Linked DNA regions of Homo sapiens. The protein of the gene in region 1 interacts with the protein of each later gene in a pairwise test. Each region holds a gene or a part of one and is shown on either strand. Other genes may lie near its edges.

Evidence for each region. The genes of interacting proteins can lie anywhere in the genome.
Region 2: the proteins of NOTCH2NLC (region 1) and ZNF837 interact in binary tests that used the Homo sapiens proteins (3 or more experiments, as listed by UniProt).

What each region holds. Positions count from the first base shown.
Region 1 is NC_000001.11:149,449,542-149,456,652, forward strand, and holds part of NOTCH2NLC (notch homolog 2 N-terminal-like protein C), read left to right. Parts: intron 1-5,776; coding exon 5,777-6,036; intron 6,037-7,111. UniProt on the Homo sapiens protein: Human-specific protein that promotes neural progenitor proliferation and evolutionary expansion of the brain neocortex by regulating the Notch signaling pathway.
Region 2 is NC_000019.10:58,371,031-58,378,030, forward strand, and holds part of ZNF837 (zinc finger protein 837), read right to left. Parts: exon of another isoform or gene 6,553-7,000; intron 3,624-6,552; exon of another isoform or gene 1,512-3,623; intron 1-1,511. UniProt on the Homo sapiens protein: May be involved in transcriptional regulation.

The sequences.
Region 1 (7,111 bases):
GTGTAAGAGAAGCAGAAGGCTTGTTCTTTTTTGTTCTAGAGGGTAGAGATAACCTGGAAATTGTAGAGAGACAAAGTTTGTTCTTTTCAAAATTAAGACATAATTTATGTATCATAAAATTTACCCTTTTAAAGTGTTTAATTTAGTAGACTTTAGTATTTCCAGAGTTATGAGACCACCACCATTATCTAATTTCAAAACATTTTTATCACCCTGAAAGAAATTCTCTACTGCTTAGTAGTCACTGTCTATTTCCCTTTCTTTACAGCTCCTAGCAACACTAATCTACTTTTTATCTCTACGGATTTGCATATTCTGGACATTTCATATAAATGGAATTATATAATATGTGGCCTTTTGTGTGTGGCTTCTTTCACTTAGCATGTTTTCAAGGTTCATCCATGTTGTAGCATGTATCAGAATGTCATTCCTTTTCATGGCCACATATTTCATTTATGGATATACCACATTTTATTTATCTGTTCATCAGCTTATAGGCATTTGGGTTGTTTCTACTTTTTAGCTATTATGAATAATGCTGCTATGAACATTTTTATTATGTGGGCATATGTTTTCAGTTATCTCGGGTATATACCTAGGAAGGGAGGCAGAATTTGAAGAATTAAGAAAGAGCTTTCTCACAGTGGAATCCACCACATTGAAGACTGTTCTTTTGTTGAAGTAGTCAGCCAGTAATTTCACTTAACAAATGCATAGTGTTTACTATGTGCTGGATAGTGTTCTAAGTGCTTTACCCTTATTTAAAAATCCTATGAAGTAGGCACTGTTATTACATCTCTTTTACAACAGGGAAGTTTAGTACCTTGCCCAAGATTACACATTGAGTAAATGGTGGAGTTGGGATTGAAATCCAGGTGGTCTGGTTCCAGAGTCTGTACTCTTAAGAGCAGAACAATAATAACTCCAAGCATTTATTAAATTCTCAAGATTTATCCGGCACCATGCTACATGCTTGTATTCAAGCAGAGGCTGGTGATCATCTTTTAGAAATATTTTAGAAATGATTACTTAATTGGATAGAAATTAAATTTCTTGAATCTGAAGGTTCTGTTTTTCCAAGGATGGCTGGAAATGGGGGAAAAGCCAGCAACAAGATGATGTCTGGCCTGAGGCTTTTAAGATGATCAGAATTTGTATCAAAAAGGAAACTGTGAACACGAATGATAAGTATTATAGGAATTCAGTTAACAAGTCTTGTCAGAATGTGGTAATAAATTATATACAACTTAAAGAGATGAAGTTACTTTAAATTGTGTGTGGAAGCCTTAGAAAAATTGAATAATTAAAGTTTCTTGGGAAGATGATCTCCTTTTACAAATGTTTAGTTTCAAATAGTGGCAGCACATATTAGGATAGAGAGATGACTTCTAGAAAACTGAACATATGGGACTGGAACAGTGTATTTTGGAGTCAGTTACAGGAAGGAAGTTGTTTAAAACCAAGTGAACAACAACAGTAACAAATGCATTTGAGAGAAAGAGCAGTGCAGTCCAGACTTAAACATTAGGGTGGCCATAATAGATGGGGAAGAAGGAGAAATCAGCAATCCAGACTAAGACTTCACTGGGTTTTGAGTTAGACAGAGGGAGTCATAGAAGCCAAGGTAAAATGATTAAAACGGTACATGGAGTGGTTAGCAATTCTCCCTATAGGAGAGAGAATTTCCTTATGAAGTTTCAGATGAGACCACTGAACTTGACTAGAGGAAAGTCATTGTTTTTAGAAAACAGTTTCTAAGCAATAATTAGAATTAAAGTTTTGTTGCAGAGGGATAAGTAAGAAGTAGATGGAAAAGAAAGAGAAATATCTGAAATTAGGCTACAGTCATAGAAGGTTAGCTGTGAAACAATAATTTGGAAAGGGAAATGGGACCTCATGAAAGTGTGGGTTAAAAGAGACTTGTATATCTTCTAAGGTAAAAGTAAAGAACTAAGCTGATGTCCAGCCCTCTAAAACATTTTAAATAGAAATCAAACTTTATTAATACAGTAGGTCTAGTTTCACGTAAAGCAAATATGTGGTTCTGTACACGGGCTTTAGGAGAGTAAGTCTGTTGTACCTCATATGTAAGTATTATCCCATTTAGAGGAAAACCCTAAGTCTTTCTTTACAGTGGCTTAAAGGCCCCAATTGATCCACATCCCAGTTACAGCTCTCATCTATTTTCTGCTGCTCCAGATATTCTTGCTGTTTCTCAAACACGCTAGGGCTGCTCTCTGTGTTATGGCCTTTGCATTTGCTGTTCCCTTTCTCATGAATGTGTTTTCCTAAGATACCTGCATGATTACTCTCACCTTATTTAGGTCTCAACTCAAGTATTGTCAGTGAAGGTCTTCTCTGATTTTCCTATTCTAAACTGAGATACTTCTCTTTGCTCACCCCACACCCTCATCCCCAGCTCCATTCCTTCCTGTTTAATTTTTTTTCACAGCACTTAACTCCATCTATTGTGCATCTTTTACTTAGTAATTTTGTTTTCGTCTTCCGCTATTAGAATGTAAACTCCAAGAGTGTAAGAATTTTTCTAGCACTGGAAAAATGCCTGGCACATAATAGGCATTTACTAATTGTTGTGTGAATGAACGATTATAAGTTTAATATTCTTTGTGGAAACTAATAAGGTTGATTTCCTATCAGAAACCGATCATTATTAATAAGCATATTGGATGGTATTTATAGAATTAGCCTTCATATGTTCTCTACTCAGAAGTTGGCAAACTTTTTCTGTAAAGTGCCAGAGAGTAATTATTTTTGCAGGCTTTGTGGTCTCATTACAGCTACTTGACTCTGTTGTTGTAGTGGAAAATCAGCCATAGACAATCTATAAATGAATGAGCATGGCTGTGTTCCGGTAAGACTATTTATGGACACTGAAATTTGAATTGTATATAATTTTGAAATGTCAGAAAATATCCTTCTTTTGTTCTTTTTTTCTAATCATTTAAAAATGTAAAAAACTATTCACAGGCCAAACAAAAACAGGCAGTGGTCCAAATTAGACTTGCAAACTGTACTTTGTCAATCTCTGGTTTTACTGATTTCTTAAATATATCTTAGGTTAAAACTTATTTTTCCATACTTGATAGGGAGCAACAATGTGAATTAAACTGTAGAAACAAATAATTCAGAAATACATCTGTTTAGCTTTAGAAACTTCCATTTTGCTTCATTTTTGTTTTCCTGGGAACCTTATATTTCCATTATATGTTTATGATGCTACCATTTAAATGACTTTGCATTCTCTTAGCATATGCCACATGATAGTGTTAGGGTGGTGTAATAGTTCAGGAGCAAAGCTGAGCAAAGCCCACCCACGTTTAAAAATTTGCCATTATTTAGAAGGTGCATAATTCCCATATGGGAGAATGAAGAGTCATCTAATAATGCCCAGAGGGCTGCACTGTGAGTGAGAATTGTGTTGCAGTTTTTAACATTCATAACACATTTCTTGAATAAGCTGCAAATGCTTTTAATAATATATCTCAGAGTTAATTTTAGCTATGCTACATTGGCACTTTTTGCTCCTCCACTTCAAAAAACCAACACAAGAAACTATTCTCAAATCAAGCTGTGATTTGGATGGGGCATTGTATTTTCCTCAATAAGCACAAAGAAGAGAGAAAAGATGTTTTCACTTGGCAAAACTTTTTTTTTTGAGATGGAATCTCACTCTGTTGCCCAGGCTGGAGTGTAGTGGCACAATCTCGTCGGCTCACTGCAACCTCCGCCTCCCGGGTTCAAGCAATTCTCATGCCTCAGCCTCCCGAGTAGCTGGGATTACAAGCGTGCACCACCACCCTGGCTAATTTTTGTATTTTTAGTAGAGCCAGGGTTTCACCATGTTGGCCGGGCTATTCTCAAACTCCTGACCTCAGATGGTCCTCACACCTCAGCCTCCCAAAGTGCTGGAATTACAGGTGTGAGCCACTGTGCCCAGCCCACTTGCAAAACTTTTTAACATTTATAAGGTTTTTTACATACTTGATTTTGTTCAGTTCTTAGAATAATCTCATGATGTAGGTGACCTTATTAACTATTTACAATGTGAGAAAATGGATAGTCAGTGAAGATAAGTAACTTGTCCAAGGTCACAGCACCAGAACTCCAAACCAGACCTTCTGACCTTCTTGATACAGACTCCTCACAGTCACCTGCATGCCATCTTTGGTTTCAGTGCTATGAACTTTCTTCACTGCCTGTTGGTCTGTAGCTACACCTACTCATGAAGATGCCCAGAGCCTTAGCCGCTCCTTGCTCTGCCATGCTTATCTTATGCAGCTCTGGGAGGGGTGAAGAGGCTGTGGCCAGTTACCTCACTACCACTATAGCTATTCACCACCCTGTTTTCTCCTTTAGCCATTTTAGCTACTACACAATTCTTCTGGGCATTTTCTGTCTTAGTTCCCTAGTATCTGGCCTTCCTTCTTTTCTCAGTAACTGTGACCCCTGCTAGCTAGCCTTGCCAACCAATGGTTAATGAAAGGTCTTGGATATGACTGTCAAAGACAAAAGCACTCATGACCCCAATGTTTCAGGTCACAATGATTAGGAAAATCAGGACAACAAGGCTTGGGCACAGAAAAGCTGGTTTTTGAGAGGGGGATTTAGAGTTTGGTTTAAATGTGTAATCTTTGAGGTAATGGTGGAACAGCCTACTAGATTCAGTTTTCTAGTCCCTGAAAACTAAAACGAGGAATAAGTTGAATCACATATTTGGGGCACCAGCCAAATATATAGCAGCATTTATAGTTAGAATCAAAGTGTTTGTGTTTCTTAATTTAAATGCTTCTCAGAGATTCCATTTAAACAACTTCATTATGAAAATGGAGACTTACCATGCCTTTTTGATATTGTTCAGAGAAAATTGTCATAAATAATACACACAGTTTGAAATGGTTGTACATCTTATGAATCAAGGGGTGGCATGTAAAAAGGTTCCTCAGTGCCTCAATGTGGAAAATATCATAGAATGTTATTCTTCAATTGATTCCTTCCTTCACTTTGGTGTTTATATGGTATCTTAGATATTTTATGTTATTTAATTATATTTTGTGCCTTTTTATTTGGTTAAAAATGCCTACTTAAATATTAACAGATTTTTAAATATCCCTTTGAACTCTTCCCCATTCCTGTACCTCCTTTCCCTTTTTCTGTTGTAATGTCAGCCACCTGAACATAACCCAGAAAACTAGGTATCAGCCAATTGATGTTTCAGTGGAAATAAGAGAAAGAAGCACTTACTATTTCTCAATGCTTAATTGAGGAAAAGCACATGATACCTTACATATTTTAAATTGGAGGGGATAATAGGGTCAAGTTCATGCATTATATTGTGGACATCTTAATCCTATCAAATGGCTTAGTCAAAATGAGAAAGTTAATGAATTTAAGCAGACAAGTACGAACAGTGCTCTAAAAAAGGTGCTGTTACACCATCCCAACCTGTACACACATGAAAAAAAGCTGGGGTGCATTTTGCGTTTGAATAAGGGTCATGTTGACTGGCCATGGCAGACCCTGCTAGACCATACAGCTGATACTCTGTCACCTGCCAGGACTCAAAAGGACATGGGAGTATGTGGTTAAGTTCTCTAAGGACTCTTTCTTCTAAAGGGAAGCAGTTTTATAGGTGGTCCTTGTAGGTCTGTTGATTCACAATCTCGTGCTTTCTTGATTGGACTGTATTGTTTTACTGTAATTTTTTGGACTTACAAGAAGTCAGGTGTTTTCATGGACTCTTCTCTTTTCCATACAGATGTCCAGAAGGCTTCTTGGGGGAATATTGTCAACATCGAGACCCCTGTGAGAAGAACCGCTGCCAGAATGGTGGGACTTGTGTGGCCCAGGCCATGCTGGGGAAAGCCACGTGCCGATGTGCCTCAGGGTTTACAGGAGAGGACTGCCAGTACTCGACATCTCATCCATGCTTTGTGTCTCGACCTTGCCTGAATGGCGGCACATGCCATATGCTCAGCCGGGATACCTATGAGTGCACCTGTCAAGTCGGGTTTACAGGTAACTAATGAGACCAAAGCCAGTGCTTTCCTACCTTCAGCAGATACCTTTATTTAGCATCTTTTAGATCATGGTATCTGGCTCTTAAATGTCCCCCAGCTCTGGTGCACATTTAACATTATGATAAGGAACTGGGATGTTCCAGACAACTATCCCTAACTTCCTTTTAAGAGTTTCAGGGGGCAGAGAAAGAGAAAGAAAAAGGACCAAATACTTTGACTGCTTAAAGTATATATGTCAGGGCCAGGTGCGGTGGCGTACGCTTGCAATCCCAGCATTTTGGCAGGCCAAGGCAGGAGGATCACTTGAGGCTAGAGGTTTGAGACCAGCCTGGGAAACATAGCAAGACCCCATCTCTACAAAAAAACAAGAATAAAAATAAAACAAAATTAGTCATGTGTGGTGGTGTGCACCTGTAGTCCTAACTACTTGGGAGGCTGAAGTGGAAGAATTGCTTGAGCCCAGGAGTTTGAGGCTGCAGTGAGCTATGATCGCACCACTGCACTCTAGCCTGGGTGACAGAGTGAGACCCTGTCTCAAAAAAAAAAATATGTACACCAGGATGGGGAATCAGAGTTTACTTCACTAAAAGAAATAAGTACACTGTCACCAGAGGAAAAGTTGCTGATGTTATTGACTATTTGCTTTTAGAAATCTCCCTCCCTAGACATTCAGGGCACTGGCTTTTCTGGTTTTCTGAACCCTGTTCCTTTTGCTTCTTCATTACCTTGTTCTTATCCATTAAATGTTTGTGCTCCCTGGAGCACTGTTTTTCGCCCTCTTTTGAGCCACATCACAGCTCTCCCTAGGGAATTTCACTGTCTGTATTCGCCTCCACTGCCACTGTCTTCATTAGCTTGCTGATGAATCTCACCATCATTCCCTTAGCTCCACCCAACCCTGACATTCAGGCTCATGTTTCTAGCTATCCTTTGTATGTTCTCCTTGGAGATATTCTACAGGTACTTTCAGCTCACCTTGTTGACAGAAATACGTAGCAACCATGTACATCCCAAATACCCACGCTAGAAACTCCCTGTCCCTTGTTCTGACCTCATTTCAACTCAGTCACCCA
Region 2 (7,000 bases), on another chromosome or scaffold:
GGAGATCGATACCATCCTGGCTAACACGGTGAAACCCCGTCTCTACTAAAAATACAAAAAATTAGCTGGGCGTGGTGGCGGGCGCCTGTAGTCCCAGCTACTCGGGAGGCTGCGGCAGGAGACTGGTGTGAACCCGGGAGGCGGAGCTTGCAGTGAGCCGAGATCACGCCACTGCACTCCAGCCTGGGCGACAGAACGAGACTCTGTCTCAAAAAAAAAAAAAAAAAAATTGCCGGGCATGGTGATGCATGCCTGTAGTCCCAGCTACTCAGGAGGCTAAGGCAGGAGAATCACTTGAACCTGTGAGGTGGAGGATGCAGTAAGCTGGGATTGGGCCACTGCCCTCCAGCCTGGGCGACAGAGCGAGACTCCGTCTCAAAAATAAATAAATAAATAAATATTTTCCTCATTGTGATGTGATGTGAGGTTTCTCAGCCTCACACGTGATAAGTGCACAATCCTCCTGTCCCCTCCCTAGATCTCATTGTTTCCAGAACAAAGATGGATCTGTCCAGCACAGCCTTTAGACTCTGAATCCCGGATGGCTAACATCATATGCAGAGCGTGAGATGGACACACTTGTGGCACCCTCGTAAATCACTGCTTCACTCGGCACAGGAGCTCAGATTCTTCTCCTTTTGTCCTGTGTTCCCTATTCTGTGCAAGGCAGATATCCTCTTATTTTATTTTATTTATTTTGGTGTTTTTTGAGACAGAGGCTCTCTCTGTCACCCAGGCTGCAGTGCAGTGGCGCCATCTCAGCTCACTGCAACCTCCGCCTGCTGGGTTCAAGCAATTCTCCTGCCTCAGCCTCCTGAGTAGCTGGGATTACAGGTGCCTGCCACCATGTCTGGCTAATTTTTTGTATTTTTAGTAGAGATGGGGTTTCACCATGCTGGCCAGGCTGGTCTTGAACTCCTGACCTTGTGATCTGCCCACCTCGGCCTCCCAAAGCGCTGGGATTACAGGCGTGAGCCACCGTACCTGGCCAGATATCCCTTTATTTATTTGTTTGTTTGTTTGTTTATTTTTATTTATTTAGAGACAGGGTTTCACTCTTGTTGCCCAGGCTGGAATGAAGTGGCACAATCTCAGCTCACCGCAACCTCCGCCTCCTGGGTTCAAGCAATTCTCCTGCCTAAGCCTCCTGAGTAGCTGGGATTATAGGCATTCACCACCAAGCCCGGCTAATTTTGTATTTTTTTCTTAGTAGAGCCGGGGTTTCACCATGTTCACGGGGCTGGTCTTGAACTCCTGACTTCAGGTGATCCACCCGTCTCGGCCTCCCCAAGTGCTGGGATTATAGGCGTGAGTCACCGCACCCAGCCGATATCCATTTATTAAATGTCTCAGAGGGCCGGGTGTGGTGGCTCATGCCTGTAATCCCAACACTTGGGGAGTCCGGGGGGGGCGGATCACGAGGTCAAGAGATCGAGACCATCCTTGCCAACATGGTGAGACGTCCTTGACCTGATGTCACTTTTTCTGTCTGTTTTGCAGATTTCTAACAGGCAGTTGCCCTGGGCCACCTGGTGGCCTGAAATAACTTGACCGGGAACTAAAAGGACTCACGAAGCATTTAACCAAGACTCTACATGTTGACTTTTCAGCCAAGGACACTTCAGAGCGACTGGCTGCAGTTCTCCAAAGGAAGCTGCTGCCAGTTGCCCCTGGGGGGTTATTTCCTTCTTGGACATCATGACCACAATGGCAGAAATGCATTGATGGCCAGCACTCTGGGGATGAATGTTTTTGAGTGGAAATGAAACATACCAAACTGGTTAAAGACAAAAATGCAGAGTTGGACAAGTTCTGCAGGTCACGAAAGGCCTTTGAAGCAGCCAGGCCCGGTTCCTGCTCTGCTGTATGGGAGGCTGCTGGCCTGAGCTGGAGAGCAGAAAGGCCCAGTGCCAAGGGTTCAGCAAGTACCAGTCCCAGGCCAGGCATTTGCTAATAAGCCAGGGTGACAGTAAGGACAAGGGGACTCTGGTGTGATGTGAGGTTTCTCAGCCTCACTTGTCACACGTGATAACTGCACAACCCTCCTGTCCCCTCCAGGCCTGTGTGAGACAGGAAAGGTGAGGCTGCCTCTCCCTCTGCACCTTAAAGCCACTCGGGGTCTGGGTTTTCCTGAGACTTCCCGGAGCCAGATGCAGACTCCCAAAGGCGCCGATCCTTCCTCGATCTCCCTCCCTCAAGAGTGGCACTAATCAGGTCTAATTTAGAGAAAATCCATCACCTCCCCCCACTGTGGGCTCTGCCACTTCATGCCTTGGTCTCTCCACCTATCAGCCAGCTGGAGCCTGGGACTCAAGGAGGCATGCTTGGAAGTAAGGAACTTCTCTGAGTACGAGGACATCTGGGTGGTGCTGAACACCAGCATGCTTTGCCCCGTGGCCTGGACTGTGCACAGGGCACCTAGAGTGACCTGTCACCTCCCACGCAGGTGGAAGGGTGTGAGAGAGAATGGGCACTCAGTTACAAACATCCCCTTCCCAAACACTTGTGGATCTGAGTCTGAGGCTACTCCTTCCAGGTGAGGGGTTGGCTGCTGTTGTAGCTTGTTACTCTCTTTCTGTCCCTTCTGCCCTCAGGTCTTGACCATGCAGCTTCCCAAGAACAGGATGGGGAATGATATGGGCACATGGGGAGGCAAGCAGCCACAGGCCTCACCTGCTCATGGGCACTGACCGTCCCAACAGCAGGTGGACATGAATCTAACCCACAGACACCAGAGTAGAGGGAGCTGGGCTCCCTGAGTCTGGATGGGGTTCTCACAGGCCCCCACAGGGAGACAAGGGAAGCTTTCTCCAGAATGTGGAGTACGGACTCACTGTGTGAATAAAGTAAATGAGCTGGAGGGGGCGGGACAAGATTTCAAAAAGCACCACTCATACACCCAGGACTGGCAAAGCTGCTGGCAGTAAGCTCTATCATGGGGCTCCCCCACTGCAGGTGAGCTGATTGGCCTCAGCTGGCACCATCCATGCTCAGTGTTTGCCCTGAGGACAAGAAGACATGGCAAAAAAGAGGAAAGTACAGAACACACTCCCACCTGGCTGGTGGGGATATAGATAGTGCAGCTGCTGTGGAAACCTTCAGCTCCACAGAAAGGTAAAGATGGAGCTACCACACCCCGAGTAATTCCACCCCTAGGTATCCACCCAAGAGAAATGAACTCAGGCATTCAAGCAAACACTGGCTCACAGATGTTCAGAGCAGCGCTGTTCACAGTAGCCAAAATGGAGAAACAAGCCAAGTATATAAAATGACAAATGCATAAATAAGATGTGGTATATCCATAGAATGGGATATTATTCAGCCATAAAAATGGATGAGTACTAACACATACTGCAACATGGACTTTAGAAAACATGGAAAGTAAAAGCAGTGAGTCACAAAAGACCACATATTGCATAATTCCATTTATACGATATATCCAGAATAGGCAAATCCACAGAGACAGAAAGTAGACTGGTGGTCGCCAGGGGCTGAGGGGAAAGAGTGGGGAGTAATTGCTTTACGGGTATCAAGTTTTGGGGTAATTAAAATGTTCTGGAAATTATAGTGGTGATGGTTGCACAACATAGTGAATATATTAAAACCTAAAAAATATACTAAAACCTGGCCAGGCGGTGGTTCACACTTGTAATCCCCGCACTTTGGGAGGCGAAGGTGGGAAGATTACTTGAGGCCAGTTCGAGACCAGCCTGGCCAAAATGTCGAAACCCCATCTCTGCTAAAAATACAAAAATTAGCCGGGTGTGGTGGCACATTCCTGTAGTCCCAGCTACTTGGGAGACTGAGGCAGAGAATCACTGGAACCTGGGAGGTGGAGGCTGCAGTGAGCCGAGATCGCACCACTGCACTCCAGCCTGGGCGACTGAGCAAGACTCCATCTCAAAAAAAAAAAATTATATATATATATACACACACACAAAAACATGGCCGGGCACAGTGGCTCACGCCTGTAATCCCAACACTTTAGGAGGCTGAGGCAGGTGGATCACTTGAGGTCAGGAGTTCGAGACCACCCTGGCCAACATGGTGAAACCCTGTCTATACTAAAAATATGAAAATTAGCCAGGTGTGGTGGCAGGCGCCTGTAGTCCCAGCTACTTGAGAGGCTGAGGCAGAATTGCTTGAACCTGGGAGGAGGAGGTTGCAATGAGCCGAGATCACAACACTGTACTCCAGCCTGGGCAACAGAGCGAGAATCTGTCTCAAAAAAAAAAAAAAGTATATATATATATATATATATATATATATATATATATATATAAAATTACATATATACTTAAGAGTATATATTTATATAGAATGTAAATATATATTAGAGATATATATATACTAAAACCCAACCTGAATTGTAAAATGGTTCATTTGTTACATGATTTATATATTTTTGTTTTGTTTTGTTTTGTTTTGTTTTTTTGAGACGGAGTCTCCCTCTGTCACCCAAGCTGGAGTGCAGTGGTGTGATCTCAGCTCACTGCAACCTCTGCCTCCCGCGTTCAAGCAAGTCTCCTGCCTCAGCCTCCTGAGTAGCTGGGATTACAGGCATGTGCCACCAAGAACGGCTAATTTTTGTATTTTTAGTGGAGATGGGATTTCACCATGTTGGTCAGGCTGGTCTCGAACTCCTGACCTCATGATCCGCCTGCCTCGGCCTCCCAAAGTGCTGGGATTACAGGTGTGAGCCACCTCGCCCAGCTGATTTATATCTTTTTTTTTTTTTTTAAAGCAGAATGCACCCATGCCACAGTGCTCCTTCCTGCAGCCTGTCAGGCGTCGGCCCACCCTGCAACATCCAGGATGTCATTTGAGCCCTGGTCACACGAAAGCACTGCATGGGATGAAGGTGGTTTATTTATTTATTTTTATTTTATTATTTATTTATTTTTTTGACACAGAGTCTCGTTCTGTTGCCCAGGCTGGAGTGCAGTGACACAATCTCGGCTCACTGCAACCTCTGCCTCCCAGGTTCAAGCAATTCTCCTGCCTCAGCCTGGCGAGTAGCTGGGATTACAGGTGCCTGCCCCCACGCCCAGCTAATTTTTGTATTTTCAGTAGAGATGAGGTTTCACCCTGTTGGCCTGGCTGGTCTCAAACTCCTGGCCTCAAGTGATCCCCCTGCCTCAGCTTCCCAAAGGTGCTGGGATCACAGGCACAAGCCACTGCGCCCGGCCGAAGGTGGTTTCTTTTAAGCAATACATTTGTATTGAGAAAAACAAGTTCTTGGCCGGGCGCGGTGGCTCACGCCTGTAATTCCAGCACTTTGGGAGGCCGAGGCGGGCGGATCACGAGGTCAAGAGATCGAGACCATCCTGGCTAACACGGTGAAACCCCATCTCTACTAAAAAAAATACAAAAAATTAGCCGGGTGTGGTGGCAGGCGCCTGTAGTCCCAGCTACTCCGGAGGCTGAGGCAGGAGAATGGCTTGAACCCGGGAGGCAGAGCTTGCCATAAGTCAAAATCAGGCCACTACACTCCAGCCTGGGTGACAGAGCAAGACTCTGTCTCAAAAAAAAAAAAAAAAAAAAAAAAAAAAAAAAAAAAAGAAAGAAAAGAAAAAAGGAAAAAAAAAGAGAAAAACAAGTTCTTTTAAATCTCTAGGTAAAAATAAAATAATTTCTCACACACAGCCAAGTCAACTGCATACCAGAGTACCAAGCATAGTTTCCACATCAGAGGCTTAAGCTCTGGGGTAAAAGCATTTTCTTTAACCAGGTGTCTGTTAATTCACTCATATCAAAGAGAAAACTTGGCTGGGTGTAGTGGCTTATGCCTATAATCCCAGCACTTTGTGAAGCCAAGGTGGGTGGATGGCTTGAGCCCAGGAGTTAGAGACCAGCCTGGGCAGTATGGTGAAACCCTGTCTCTATTAAAAAAAAAAAAAAAAATGGCCGGACGTGGTGACTCATGCCTGTAATCCCAACACTTTGGGAGGCCAAGGTGGGTGGATCACGAGGTCAGGAGATTGAGACCAGCCTGGCTAACATGGTGAAACCCCATCTCTACTAAAAATACAAAAAATTAGCCAGGCGAGGTGGCGCGCACCTGTAATCCCAGATACTCGGGAGGCTGAGACAGGAGAATCACTGGAATCCGGGAGGCGGAGGTTGCAGTGAGCCAAGATCGTGCCACTGCACTCCAGCCTGGGCGACAGAGCGAGACTCCGTCAAAAAAAAAAAAAAAAGGCTGGGCGCAGTGGCTCACACCAGTAATCCCAGCACTTTGGGAGGTGGGCAGATCACGAGGTCAGGAGATTGAGACCATCCTGGCTAACATGGTGAAATCCCGTCTCTACTAAAAAATAGAAAAAATTAGCCAGGTGTGGTGGTGGGCGCCTGCAGGAGAATGGTGTGAACCCGGGAGGCGGAGCTTGTAGTGAGCCGAGATCTTGCCACTGCACTCCAGCCTGGGTGACAGAACGAGACTCCATCTCAAAAAAAAAACTATCCAGGTGTGGTGGTGCAAGCCTGTAGCCCCAGCTGTCAGGAAGCTAAGGTGGGATGATCGCTTGAGCCTGGGAGATTGAGGCTGCAGTGAGCTACAATTGCACCACTGCACGCCAGCCTGGGCAACACAGTGAGACCACATCTCAAAAAAAGAAAGCAAAGAAAACTCTTCATTAGAAACTGAACATGCTCGCTGGGAATGATATTCAGGGCACAGGGCAATTCCTTACAGGGGCACACACCCAAGGGCACTGCTGCCACCACATGGGAAGTTGTGACGGGAGGGAGGAGACTGAGGGCAGGACACAAGACATGGAGACACACATTCTGGTCTGTCTGACCATGGAGCTCTGTCCACACCCAGGCTGCCTGCTGGCTCCCAACCACCACACACAGTATCTGGCGTTTCTCACAGGTGTCGGCTTCTCTCTCTCGAGTCCATCTGCTGGCCGTGGACCTGGCTATTCGGGGCAGGCCCATCCTGCCCACCTCCCCACACTCTCTCAAGCCTCTGTCTCTGAGCACTGCAGGTTTTGTA